Regions from separate parts of the Homo sapiens genome. Here regions 2 and 3 are each reported to be linked to region 1. Evidence: microRNA targets listed by miRTarBase, many of them from high-throughput screens and not tested one by one. Region 1 holds a microRNA gene; each other region holds the end of a gene's coding sequence.

Evidence for each region. The annotated mature microRNA hsa-miR-1205 reads UCUGCAGGGUUUGCUUUGAG and lies in region 1 at 1,273-1,292, shown strand. An mRNA with a match to its seed (bases 2 to 7 or 8) in the 3' UTR can be bound and repressed. Matches are read on the target gene's strand: a 7mer-m8 pairs with bases 2 to 8, a 7mer-A1 pairs with bases 2 to 7 and ends in A, and an 8mer does both.
Region 2: miRTarBase lists USP46 as a target of hsa-miR-1205. The part of its 3' UTR that is shown has no 7-base or 8-base seed match.
Region 3: the mRNA of GGA2 is a reported target of hsa-miR-1205. Seed matches in the 3' UTR shown: 7mer-A1 at 388-394.

Annotation. Positions count from the first base shown.
Region 1 is chr8:127,959,368-127,963,434 of GRCh38, forward strand. It overlaps MIR1205 (microRNA 1205), which reads left to right and starts at 1,266; the gene lies at 1,266-1,328. The region is part of intron 3 of PVT1 (Pvt1 oncogene); the gene reads left to right. RefSeq lists an enhancer at 642-1,617 and a cis regulatory region at 1,024-1,135.
Region 2 is chr4:52,593,855-52,597,921 of GRCh38, reverse strand. It overlaps USP46 (ubiquitin specific peptidase 46), which reads left to right. Exons shown (of 9, transcript NM_022832.4): 9 at 181-4,067. The coding sequence ends at 282. Among named protein-coding and RNA genes, the nearest start is that of USP46, 63 kb to the left of the region's middle.
Region 3 is chr16:23,463,767-23,467,833 of GRCh38, reverse strand. It overlaps GGA2 (golgi associated, gamma adaptin ear containing, ARF binding protein 2), which reads left to right. Exons shown (of 17, transcript NM_015044.4): 17 at 134-4,067. The coding sequence ends at 244. Among named protein-coding and RNA genes, the nearest start is that of COG7, 13 kb to the right of the region's middle.

The sequences.
Region 1 (4,067 bases):
CGAGGTCAAGAGATCGAGATCAGCCTGGCCAACATGGTGAAAACCCATCTCTACTAAAAATACAAAAATTAGCTGCACGTGGTGGCACGTGCCTATAGTCCCAGCTACTCGGTAGGCTAAGGCAAGAGAATCGCTTGAACCCGGGAGGCAGAGGTTGCAGTTAGCCGAGATGGCGCCACTCTACTCCAGCCTGGCAACAGCGCGAGACTCTGTCTCAGGAAAAAAAAAAAAAAAAAAAAAAAAGACCCAGTGCCTACCCTTAAAGGAGCTCTTCTTATTGAAACTCTTTAAGGAAAGGAGGCAGGAAACAGACATCTTTAATGGGCCAGAGGCTGATTTAGGCTGTTCAGACATTGTTAAGCTGCTCAGCATCTGAAGTTCAAAGAGGCTGAGAACAAACCGGTTAGGAAATGGCAGAAGGGGGTTGGGACCTAGGTGAGCAGCCCGTCAGGAGCCCCTGGGTGGCTTGCACTCCTAGCCCCAAGTGCAATATACAGGTGAGGCGCCTGCAGAATTTTCATTAGGCTGAGTTCATTTCTGGAAGCAGGGAATTGGCATCCACTTAACCATCCCTAATGCCTGCCTTTTCATGTATGTCTGCACTTACTTCTGGCCTTCCCCGGATGCAGTATGTGATTCCTGGAAGGGGTCTCCTGTACGTCGTAGTTTTGTCATCTTCAGGCAACCCAGGATGACATGATTTCTGGAAATTTCCCTGATTTCTTTCTGCTTCACTCTCCCTCTTTTGCTAGAAGGGATCGGCTTAGGCAGCCATTGTGGTGTTCATTCAACATGTCCAGTACAGCCTGTTACTGCAGTTTCCAAGTTGGAGGGTCCGTGAGTCTACTCCCTTTTTTGAACAGAGGGGTACATGGGGAAGCTGAGCCTCTGATGAATGGGTTGATTTGTCCCAGGTCACACAGCTTGAGGGTGGCAGAAGCCAGATCTCAGGTCACAGAGTGGCTCTCCTCCATTTGCCTCCCTGGTCTTGCCTCCTGGAGGCCTGTAGATAGGAGACACCCTTCCTGGAAAGACAACAGCTTGGGGACATTACAGATAAGGCTGGGCGGGTGTGCCTAGCTAGCCCAGAATAAAAGGATCACCGAGAGAAGTTAGGAATCGACCTTCCTTGAGGTGGGTTCTGCAGATAAAGATGCTTTTGAAGTTCAGTTGGTGGGAGATAGGATCTTTGTGGCCTTCTGGATGGATGCACCACGATAGGGAAATCAGCAAGCTGAAGATAGGGAAAGTGAACACTTATCACTGAAGGCCTCTGCAGGGTTTGCTTTGAGGTACTTCCTTCCTGTCAACCCTGTTCTGGAGTCTGTCTCCATTTTTCAGACACAAAAACTGAGGCATAGATAACTGTTTTCTGTTTTTTGTGGGGAGAGAGTATTATTGTTTCAATTTCCTGGACACTTCAAAACATAGGGTATTTCTCATTATGCAATAGTTTAATTGAGCACATACTGCAGGCCAGGCATGGTGCTGCATGCATTCTGGAAGTACAGGAATGAGTTGGAAGTGCTCTTTTTCCTTAGAGATTTTTTGTTCTCTTGTGTGTGTGTTTGGGGGTGGGGGGGGCGGGCGGGCACGAATAGGGGAGGAATTTAGATGAGAAATCAGATAATCACAGCCAAGGTGCCTGCCTGGGGACACAGGGTGCCATAGGCACACAGAAGGGCCCAGGGTGTGGACTTAGGGTGGTCAGGGGAAGGAAGGAGTTTGCCCAGAGAAGAGGCAGGAGGGAGACAGGAAAGGTAAGCAGAGGCCAGATCCTAGAAAGACCATTTTGACTTTGTGCTGAGGGCGATGGTCTCATGATGCAGATTTTAAGCAGAGGTGAGAGAGGGAGAGATTAGCATTTCAGAAAGCATGGCCTCTGCCATAGGAAGACAAGATCAGAGGGAGGTCCAAGCTGGTGGCCAGTGGTGACGGGGCCTGAGCTGGAGGAGACAGGGATGCACTGGAGACCCAAGAGAGAAGTCCCTGAACGCGGTGCACGAAGAGCCTCTGGGGTTACAGGAAGGAAGGGGTAAAATGTTCTTTTCTGTGTCCAGCTTAGGCCACTGAATAGATTCGGTGCTGTGTGTTGTACTAGGAAATGCGGAGGTGATGGGGATTGTTTGGGCTGGAGTCTGGAGGGGCTGTGCCCCACCCCAAGCTGGGTGAGCATCTAAGGTAAGTGAGGGCTGTGCCCAAGACTGCATGAGCAAATCCAGGTTCTCCTACCAGCAAGCTGCCTTGAAGACTCTGAGGCTGGAAATGTATAACCTTGTCCGTACCACTGAGCACCTGTTACCCATACACATTACTGTTCTCCAAACCACGGAACAACTTGAAGGATTGTTTTGCCAGACTAAAAAGTGAAGAAAGCACTGGTTTCCTTCCATGGTGTTCCTCTTTAAACCACACCTTCTCAACCTTGTTTAGGGAGTGGGGATGGCCTTCAGGAGCTCCAGAGGCCCCCCCTGCCCGAGTCTGACTCCTGGTTTCTGGCTTCAACAATGACTAACCTGTAACTTCACATTTTGGTCTATAAAGTGGGTAGAAATGTAGCACCTCTGCATTCTCCAGGTTTGTTGTGAGGACGAAGGAGATAATGAATGTAGAATTTTTTTTTTTGAGACGGAGTCTCGCTCTGTCGCCTAGGCTGGAGTGCAGTGGCGCGATCTCGCCTCACTGCAACCTCCGCCTCTGGGGTTCAAGCGATTCTCCTGCCTCAGCCTCCCAAGTAGCTGGGCCTGCAGGGGCACTCCCAGCTAATTTTTATATTTTCAGTACAGACGGGGTTTCACCATGTTGGCCAGGATGGTCTCAATCTCTTGATCTCGTGATCCACCTGCCTTGGCCTCCCAAAGTGCTGGGATTACAGGCGTGAGCCACCGCTCCCGGCCATGAATGTAGAATTCTGAGCCCAGGGCTGGCTCACTGGGAGTGGGCCACACATTTAGGGGGTTGTTGTTGTACACATGATCATCGGTGGCACTGCTTTGCAGCCTAATGGTTTTTGACACATGTGTTCCTTCTTAATCCTTAAGCCAGCACCTTGAGTTGGGTGTGATCAACTCATTGAATTTTTTAACTTCAGCTGTGACATTATAGATCATCTAGCTCTGCTGTGACCTTATTTTGTAGATGACAGGGCTAGGGGTTACCATCCCTCTTAAGGCCTAGGGCCTGGGTGTTCTCACACCCAGGTTGCGGTTTTTGTCCTTGTCTTCTGGAGGTTCGTCTGCATTTTATTTTTTTTTGTTGACGATTTGTTGACGAGGCTGGAGTGCGGGGGTGCTATCTCGGCTCACTGCAGCCTCTGCCTCCTGGGTTCAAGTGATTCTGCTGTCTCAGCCTCCCGAGTAGCTGGGATTACAGGGGCACACCACTGCACCTGGCTAATTTTTGTATTTTTAGTAGAGACGGGGTTTCACCGTGTTGGCCAGGCTGGTCTCAAACACCTGACCTCAGGTGATCGCCCACCTCGGCCTCCCAAAGTGCTGGGATTACAGGCATGAGCCTCCATGCCTGGCCTCATCTGCATTTTAGGGTCCCTGTTTTACAAAGGAGCAGTCCCTATTTTACTTGCAGATGGGCAGTAGTGTCAGATCCTCACTGGGGTGGTCAGGGAAGAGGAGGTGTTTGGAAGAGGGCCCCAATGGACCTCTGGCCTGCGGGATTGAGATCGGGCTGGCCAGCTCTCCTCTCTTTCCTCAACAGAGTCTGGGTCTCACCCTGCCCAGCAGCTTTCTCTTCTTCCTAGAAGTGCCCAAGACAGGATCTTTTCAGTTCTGAGATCTTCCACCCCTCGCACGGCAGCCTTCCTGCCCCTGCCCAGGCTGACTTCACACCATGCTCTGTTATCCCAGGTCCTAGGCTCGCATCGGCCACTTGCCACCATGTTGGTGACTGCCTGCCCTCTACCTTGGATGGTGCGGTCCACGGGGCAGGACTGGGGTTTGCCATTTGTGTGTCCCTGGTGCTTCTCTCAGTGTCTGACACCTGGTGAGATTTGCCACCTGTTTGGTGCATGGGTGAGTGTGGTTGTTTACACTAGCGTTGTTATTGGAAAT
Region 2 (4,067 bases), not on the chromosome of region 1:
ATGTGATGATGTCCTTTAGCCAAGTCTGTGGAATTCTCCATTTGCTATTGAAAGTTCCTAATGATGATTTCATAACAAATTGTGTTCCTTGCATTTTAATATATATTCCATTAGTTTTTATTTCCTTTCCCCAGGAATCATGTTAAGTAATTGTGTTGTTTTCTTTCTCCTTTATTGCAGAAAATAGATGCTCAAGCTATTGAAGAATTCTATGGCCTGACGTCAGATATATCAAAAAATTCAGAATCTGGATATATTTTATTCTATCAGTCAAGAGAGTAACTGAAAGACCTGCGGGACTGATTCACGTGGGGAGAATGTTCACAGCACTGTCACCCGGCTTCTCCGCAGGCTTTCCTCTTCCCCAGTGGCCCACTAATGGTATCACTCCGAGTCTCAATGGTCTGGCTGTGTTAGACTCTCTCCTTTTGTGTTTTTACATGCAGCACTACTCTTGGTTTTATTTCAGTCTGACATAGAGTTAACTGCAATCAGATTGTAGTCTGATTTATATGAATAACGGTTGCTAATTTTAGGACTGGGTGAAAGCTATGCCATTCATTATGTCTGGCTGTATTAGAATGACATTTCCTATGAATGTCTACGGTCTGTTTTAGGTGTTTGCTAAACTTCTATGGCTTCCAGGGTCTTCTTACAATGCATTCCTTTAACTTGTCCCTGGAAGCATTGCTACCCATTTTCAGCTTCTCTGCCTCTCTTCTGATACAAGGACAGAAGAATTGGGTAGATATTCACCTTTTAGGGGTGCAAGTATAGCTTTAAGTTTGTGCAAGTGAAAATGTTGAAAAGTGAGTAACCTCGATATTAAAATCATCCTTGACATGAAACAGGGTGAAGAGAAGCTGTCCGTGGCGGCTGGTGTTGGCTGGCATTGGCACTGGGCTGTGCTGACCTAGCCATTACAATTCCAGGGGCTAAGAAGGCTCAGGGCAGACAAAGTCAAGAGGAGGAAGTTTTTGTGGACAATGAAAAGTTATTTTCGTACCTTTCTACCAAAACCAAGTTTCAGGAAAATAACTCTATGTTGTTTATTTTCAGTGACACTTATGTAAGGCCCTGTGAGTTGTATTTATCCTGTATCCGGCACTGCTAAGCTTTTCAAGGTATCTTTCCAATCCTGCTGATGTGGCAGTCAATGGCTGCAGGGCTGGCAAACCTCCCCTTAGCCAGTCAGCACGGCATTGTTCCTTATCAGGAATAACAAAGGTACTACATCTTTCCAGCCATCAGCACGTTGTACAACTTAACTTTTTAACATAGTCCGTCTGTTTACTGAGGCACTGGCGAGTCCCAGGGCTGATACAGAACCTTCCCTAGAGGGAATACCAGAGTTAGCTGGGTATAGAGGTGGCTCAAAGGAAGTGTCCGTGGGCAGGGGGAGGAATGAACAAAATGGCGCTGTTTCTTTGGCTCAGACTCCTAGAATGCTTGACAAGACAGAATTTTTTTGGAAGAACCTCATCTCACTATAGTTACTTTTTTCACTTTTGTTATATATGTATTTATTAGAGCATTTGAATATTGGTACCTTTAAAAGGGTCATTTGGTGTTTTGCTGTTGAGCTGGTTTTTGAGTCATAGATCTTGGCTTCCTTTAGAAGCCACTTAACTTCCATACACTATAATAAACTGTGAACATATTTTTGTTACCTAATGCATCCACTGATGAACATGCAAACTTTGGGCATAATGTGAACTAAAATTGAAATGGAAAATGTTAGTGGCCATTTTGCAACAATGAAGAGGATAGCACTTTATCTAGATGAAAACTGGATTTCTTATCTTTGAAATATCTTGAACTGTTTATTGCTCAGAACTTAAGTAAGCATGCCAACATTTCGTTTGTTTATGCTTGAAGTGAAATGTTTTACTTTTCACTGGAGAAGACAAAACAGGGTGATCTTCATGTTATTGTTTTATACAAGTGATGGAAATGTACCTTGCCTTGTTTAGAGGCAATTTCACATTTATAAATATTTTTTTTTCCTCCATGAAACTTACGCAGTAATCACTACCTGGAAGGTGAGTTTTGATCTCTTTTTAAGGAGAGGCACTTTCCAACTGAAGGTGATTGATGTAGGGAAATGTTTGTACTATATAGAATCCATATATTTGACTGCAAGTTACAAAGTTTTAAGAACATGATGGTTGGTCTCTAATATATTTGGAACTGATTCATAAGAAAAGTTATTAAAATTATCTTTGAAACACCTCTTGAAGCTAATTTATTAGAAAAAATATTTCAGTTGGAAGGCTGTAGAAGTAATGTTTAAATGCTAAGTCATAAGTTCAGGATATTTCTTTTCTATTTGGTTGTGCAAAATGTTTTTCCCAGTTATTTAATCGAAGTAATTCCTTTTAATAGAAAGAGTCAGTTAAAATTCAGCATTCATGGATAGATTTTTGGAACGAAAAAGGGTAAGTATAAGAAAATATTGCAAACACATTAAAACAGTTGTATGGTGCAGGAAAAGAAGATTGGAAAAAGACCAAAACACACTTCTCCAGCAACACTCCATCAGCTTTTTAAAATTTAGAGCTATCTGCTAATTTTTTCCCTCTTCCTTCTCAATAAATGAAACAAACACTGGGCAGCTGCAGGTTTCTCCCAATCATGTCTCTTTATGTAAAGACAGTAACATGCAAACACTTTTAGTTTACATCCCTCATTCACAGTGTAAAGCAGGAAATGGTGTGGGAGATGTGAGACCATTCTGAGGTCAGCGATAGCCCAAAGGCTCTGCAGTATTCCCTCCAATGGCCAAGGATTCCGTGTGTCATCTGCAGGAGTGAGTAGGCCTGCTGTATTTCTTGTAACTGCTGGGTGTTACAAAATAAGTTACAATGTTTTACACTTTAAAAAAAAAACAGAAGGAACATTTGCTTTATTGGTTACTTACTAGTTTAGCCTCTAGGTTATGGCACAGCATGCTAAAAAATCATGTGTTTAAAAGTAAATGTTGGTAAAATGCTGGCATCTGGTCCTATTGTGTTGATGCATTTTCACTTCTGTGGTCATAGGAAATGGACTGGTCTAAAGAGAGTGAGGCACAACACAAGCAGGGCATTAGTTTGAATAGGAAGTCAATCATATTTGGTTTTATGGCCTGGTGTATTTTGGGTTTAAGATAAAATAGGGAAAAATGTCAGAAATGATCCCTATGCATTTATTTTCATGGATACCCTTAATTTCATGGGCATGCCTAATAATGATCTATGTTCTAACTGGAGCTTAGGGCTTATTTTAGATATTGGAGTGTAGCTTTATTACAGATGGATTTTATCTTTCAACATTGCATTTTGATCAACTTTGTATATTCACGTGTATTAAAATATTGTGCACTAAATGTTTTGCCCTTGTTTGCTATTATATGGTCAAGGCATTTATCAGCACTATTGTAATGAACTCATGTAAGTGGCATGGGTCAGGGAAAATTATTTCCTACTTTTCTGCCTAATTAAATTTCTGTTTTCCAGTATTACATTAATTTATTTTTGGCTTCCATTTCTGTATAACCAAAATAGTTACTGTATTTGTGTGGCATTCCTATTATTTTGTTGCTAAAAATATTGTAGTTTTTATTTAAAATAATCTGTACCTTAATTTTTTAAAATGTAACCAATTCAAGCACTTTAAGCAATAATGTCAATCTTGTGAAATTTTAATCAGTTTAACACCCTGCCTCTAAAATTGTTTGCAAAAAATAAATAAATGAATAAAATGGGAATTCTCTTTCTAGAGAATTATATCCGGGTAATGCTACACACATGGACTTAAAATCCTTTTTATAAAGTGTGAGTCAGTGGCAGGTCTTATGTCCAAGTAATTATTACAAACAATTTTGAAGCAGTGGAAATGTACAGAACATTCTGATCATTATAATATATAAAGGCAGTATTACTCTCAAGGTTGATAAAAATCAATGTTCTGGAGATAACTCATCACTTTTTTTGAGTGAAAAAGATCAACAGAATTTAATTCAGGAAATGGTATCTGGAGAATAGCAAATTGAGAATATCAGTGAAAAGAATTTAGGGATAGTTAAC
Region 3 (4,067 bases), not on the chromosome of region 1:
GTTTGTAGTCCCAAAGAGAGTATCCCAGGTATTTTGTGTCAGAATTGTTTGAAACACTCACTTGACTTAACATTGACCCCTGTTCCTGGGTTGCTCTCCACTGATTTGACATCTTCTGTCTCTTCTGTCCCAGGAACCTATCCGCTTACGGTACAAGCTGACATTCAACCAAGGTGGACAGCCTTTCAGCGAAGTAGGAGAAGTGAAAGACTTCCCAGACCTGGCTGTCTTGGGCGCAGCCTAACTTTTCACAAGATGGACCCTTCATTTCAAGCTTAGGCTGGCGTTACTTTTGCTGTCTAGTCAGGACTAATCACGGTGTTTCAGTGCGGAGTGCCAAGAGTCCTATCCTGACGTCAGGCTCTGGGTGTCAACCTCTGACTTATTCTGCAGATGCTCTGTGTGTGTGTGTGTGTGTGTGTGTGTGTGTGTGTGTGTGTGTGTGTTCGGGGAGAGGGTGGTAGCACAGGGCTTGGGATATCGGCAGTGTGGGAAATGCGAAGCATTTCTCATCATCATCATCTCTGCTACAGTCATGTTTCTGCATGTCAGCGAGCGACACTGTCCCTGCCTCAGGTTGGAGGTTTTATCAGCCAAAGTGTTTTTTTCATGTATCGTTCGTTCCATTCATCCACTCTGTGCCTTGTCAGCCTTTGAAAGGCTTGGTTGCTCCCAGGCTGCTGTTCTCAGGGACCTTAAAAGGGACCTGGTTAGTCTTGGGGCAGAGAGTATCTACTTGGGCACTCTCTTCCAAGAAAGACCTTGTCTCCATTTTCATTAGACAATGCTTCTTGTGTGTGTTCTGGAAGATCTTCTAAATGGAATGCTTGTTGCACTGTTCCCAGGCGAGTGGCTGCCATGAGACCTGAGGACCACACTTGGGGGACCAATCATGTCCTTCACCACTGTGCCTTAGAATCGCCCCTGGACAGAGTTCCTGGGCAGAGGGGAAAGCAGCTCCCAGGCCTTACTCAGGCCTCAGGTCCATGGGTTGGGCAGCCAGTCTGGGCCCTTCTCAGGATCCTCATCTCCATCCTCATCCTCTTCCTTCACAGCATTTACTTGGAGCTCTTTGTGACACACCATGTCAGTCATGATGAATCGGCCAACAGCCAGCCCTTGCCAGCTGACGTCACAGTCTAAGATGGGAAACTGTGGTACAGATAGACATGAAGAGAGCTTAGCAGTGATTGAGGTGGTGACTAAATATACAGTCATTGAATAAATACCATGTAGCAAGTGTACTTTGTGGAGTGTTGAGTAAGTGGAAAATGGAAAGCCAGTTGCATTTAGAGATGATAGGCCTAAAGGGAACTGTCTTCTGTCGAGAAGTAAAGGAAACTTCATGAAGGATGTAGAAGCTTAGCTGCCTCAGAGAAGAGAGAACCTGAAGATCTGAGGCAAGCTGGACAGGAGAGGTGGATATTTGTTGATGGAAGAATTCAAGTTTATAATCAATTCCCACTTAGCACCTACTGTGTGCTAGGAACTTGAATGTGTATGTTTGACAAGTCCTGCTTGGCCTGATGGGTGGGAGAAGGAACCTGAGCCTGGCTGAGATGGCTAGGCGGAGGGCTTTGAAGTCCAAGCAGCTGAACTGGCTGGGTGGGTTTCTACCTTTGAAACTGCAAGACTTGTTTGGAGCTCTTAATTACAATATCTGATATTTTTACAGTCTGATCTTTTGACTTCTACATATAGTGGAAATCTGCCAATACTAATTGGTGGAGATGGGAACTGTAAAAGATCAAGTATGCTAATTTTAAGCAAATGTAAAAACTCATAAAACAGGTAAACAGTGGGGTGATTTCATTTGCCATAATTCACATAAGACGAATTTTAATCTAAAAGTACTTTCTTGCTTGTATTCTGTGTGGCTTTTTTTTGTTTTTTGAGGCCATATCTCACTCTGTCACTCAGGCTGGAGTGCGGTGGTATAATCTCAGCTCACTGCAATCTCTGCCTACCAGGTTCAAGCGATTCTCGTGCCTCAGCCTCTCGAGTAGCTGGGACTACAGGCGTGAGCCAGCACGCCCAGCTAATTTTTGTATTTTTAGTAGAGACAGGATTTCACCATGTTGGCCAGGCTGGTCTCGAACTCCTGACCTCAGGTGATCCGCCTGCCTTGGCCTCCCAGAGTGCTGGGATTACAGGCGTGAGCCACCGCACCCGGCCTCTGTGTAGCTTTTATAGGCTCTGTTACTGTTGCGTAGTCTTGAAGAGGTACCCATCATAATGACAGCATCTCCCTCTGAAGGGTTTTGGTCAAAATGGGTGAATGAGACTTATACATAAAGACAGGCTTTCTCCCCTATAGTTAGGAGGTGAACTCACACATGTGTACCTGAACATTCTTGCTTTTGAGGAGACAGACTCCCAGTGGTACTACTATGCTTAGGTGTTGGACAGGATAGGGGTAGGAGGAGAGGAGGCAGGCTGCTGTCCTGAAAGTGGCTGTGGTTTATGGCATCACTCCCTTCTAATCAGCAAGTCCAGTGGCCACTTAGAGCCCAGCTCCTACCTCTTCATTCACTTAACAAGTAGTTATTGGCTGTGCACAGTGGCTCACGCCTATAATCCCAGCATTTTGGGAGGCTGAGTGGGATGACCGCTTGAGCCCAGGATTTCAAGTCCAGCCTGGGCTACATAGTGAGACCGTGTCTCTGTTTTTTTAAAAGCTAGTTGTTGACCAGCTACCCTGAGCCAGGCACCACCCTGAAGGAGCTTCTTTTCCTCTGGGGAGAAGCAAATTCATGATGTGTGTGCTGGAGATCTGGCACTCATGGCCAGTGCTTTCCAGTATCTTGAACTCTTCGGGGGTCCTGTTGACCCATTTCGTGACCTACCTCCGTGACTGCTCTTTTTCCTCTGTCTCTTAAGTGTGATGGTTTTCCAGAGTCCAATCCTCAGGACTTTCCCGTCCACACACAGGCCTGGTAGTCAGGTGGCTCTAAACCATTAGGTGGGTTGTAGACCTCTCTCAAGCTGCCACCTCCTTGCTGTCGCCAGATCGTATTTCAGTCTGTCAGGGGTTATCTGTATCTGGAGGTTCCACTGTTGCTTCAGTCTCAGTTACTTAGAATGGAACCCAGAGTCCTGCCCCTTTCCACCTACATGCTCTTACTTGAAAGCACCTGAGACTTATTGGGTCCCTGATTCCTGCTTCGTCTGTATCCGCAGAGTAGTTGCATGTCATTTGGCCTGTTTTCTAAATAATCCCACATCATGTCCTCCCTGCACTTACATTGCCACTGCTCTGATTTGGGCTTTTTTTTTTTTGGGACAATGCCTCTGTCCCAATTCTGAGTAACAGCTCTGGTTCTTGCCACTACCAGAGTTCTCTAGCAAATCTGAGCATCTGACAGGGTGAAAAATTCTGAATGGCTTCCTGATGCCTGACTTTATGGGATCAAATTCAAGTTGCACGCTGGCACTCAGTGCCCTTCTGGTATCATCTGCCAAGACCAGGGCCTGCTTCACCACAGCCACAATAAAGTCCTTTCAAGCCCTGATAATGCCATGTTTTGTCCTAACCTTTTGCTGCAGTTAATTACTCTTCCTATTATCTTCCATGAACTTAAGACTGGGCAAAAATGTTTCCTTATCTGTGAGCCACTCTGAACACAAACAGGTCATGAAGATAGTGTTGAAAACAATAAATGACAACCAAAAGAAAAGTGAATATTACCTAGTACAAATAGTGTAAATTGAGACAGAAAATGTTAAAGCTAGAAAGCAAGGGCAATATTCTAGAATACAAATAGTGCTTGCCTACTACAATATTAATCCCAAATCCTTTAAATATACCCATTATAGAAGATGCTTACCCAGCGTCAAGAGTATAAAAGTGGGTTTGTTTGTTTTCTTGAGACAGGGCTTTGCTCTGTTGCCCAGGCTGGAGTGCAGTGGCGTGATTGTAGCTCAATGCAGCCTTGAATTCCTGTGTTCAGGCGATCCTCCGGCTTCAGCCTCTGGAGTAGCTGGGACTACAGGTGCATGCTGCCACGCCCAGCTAATGTTGCAGTTTTTCGTAAAGACTGGATCTCTGTGTTACCCAGGCTGGTCTC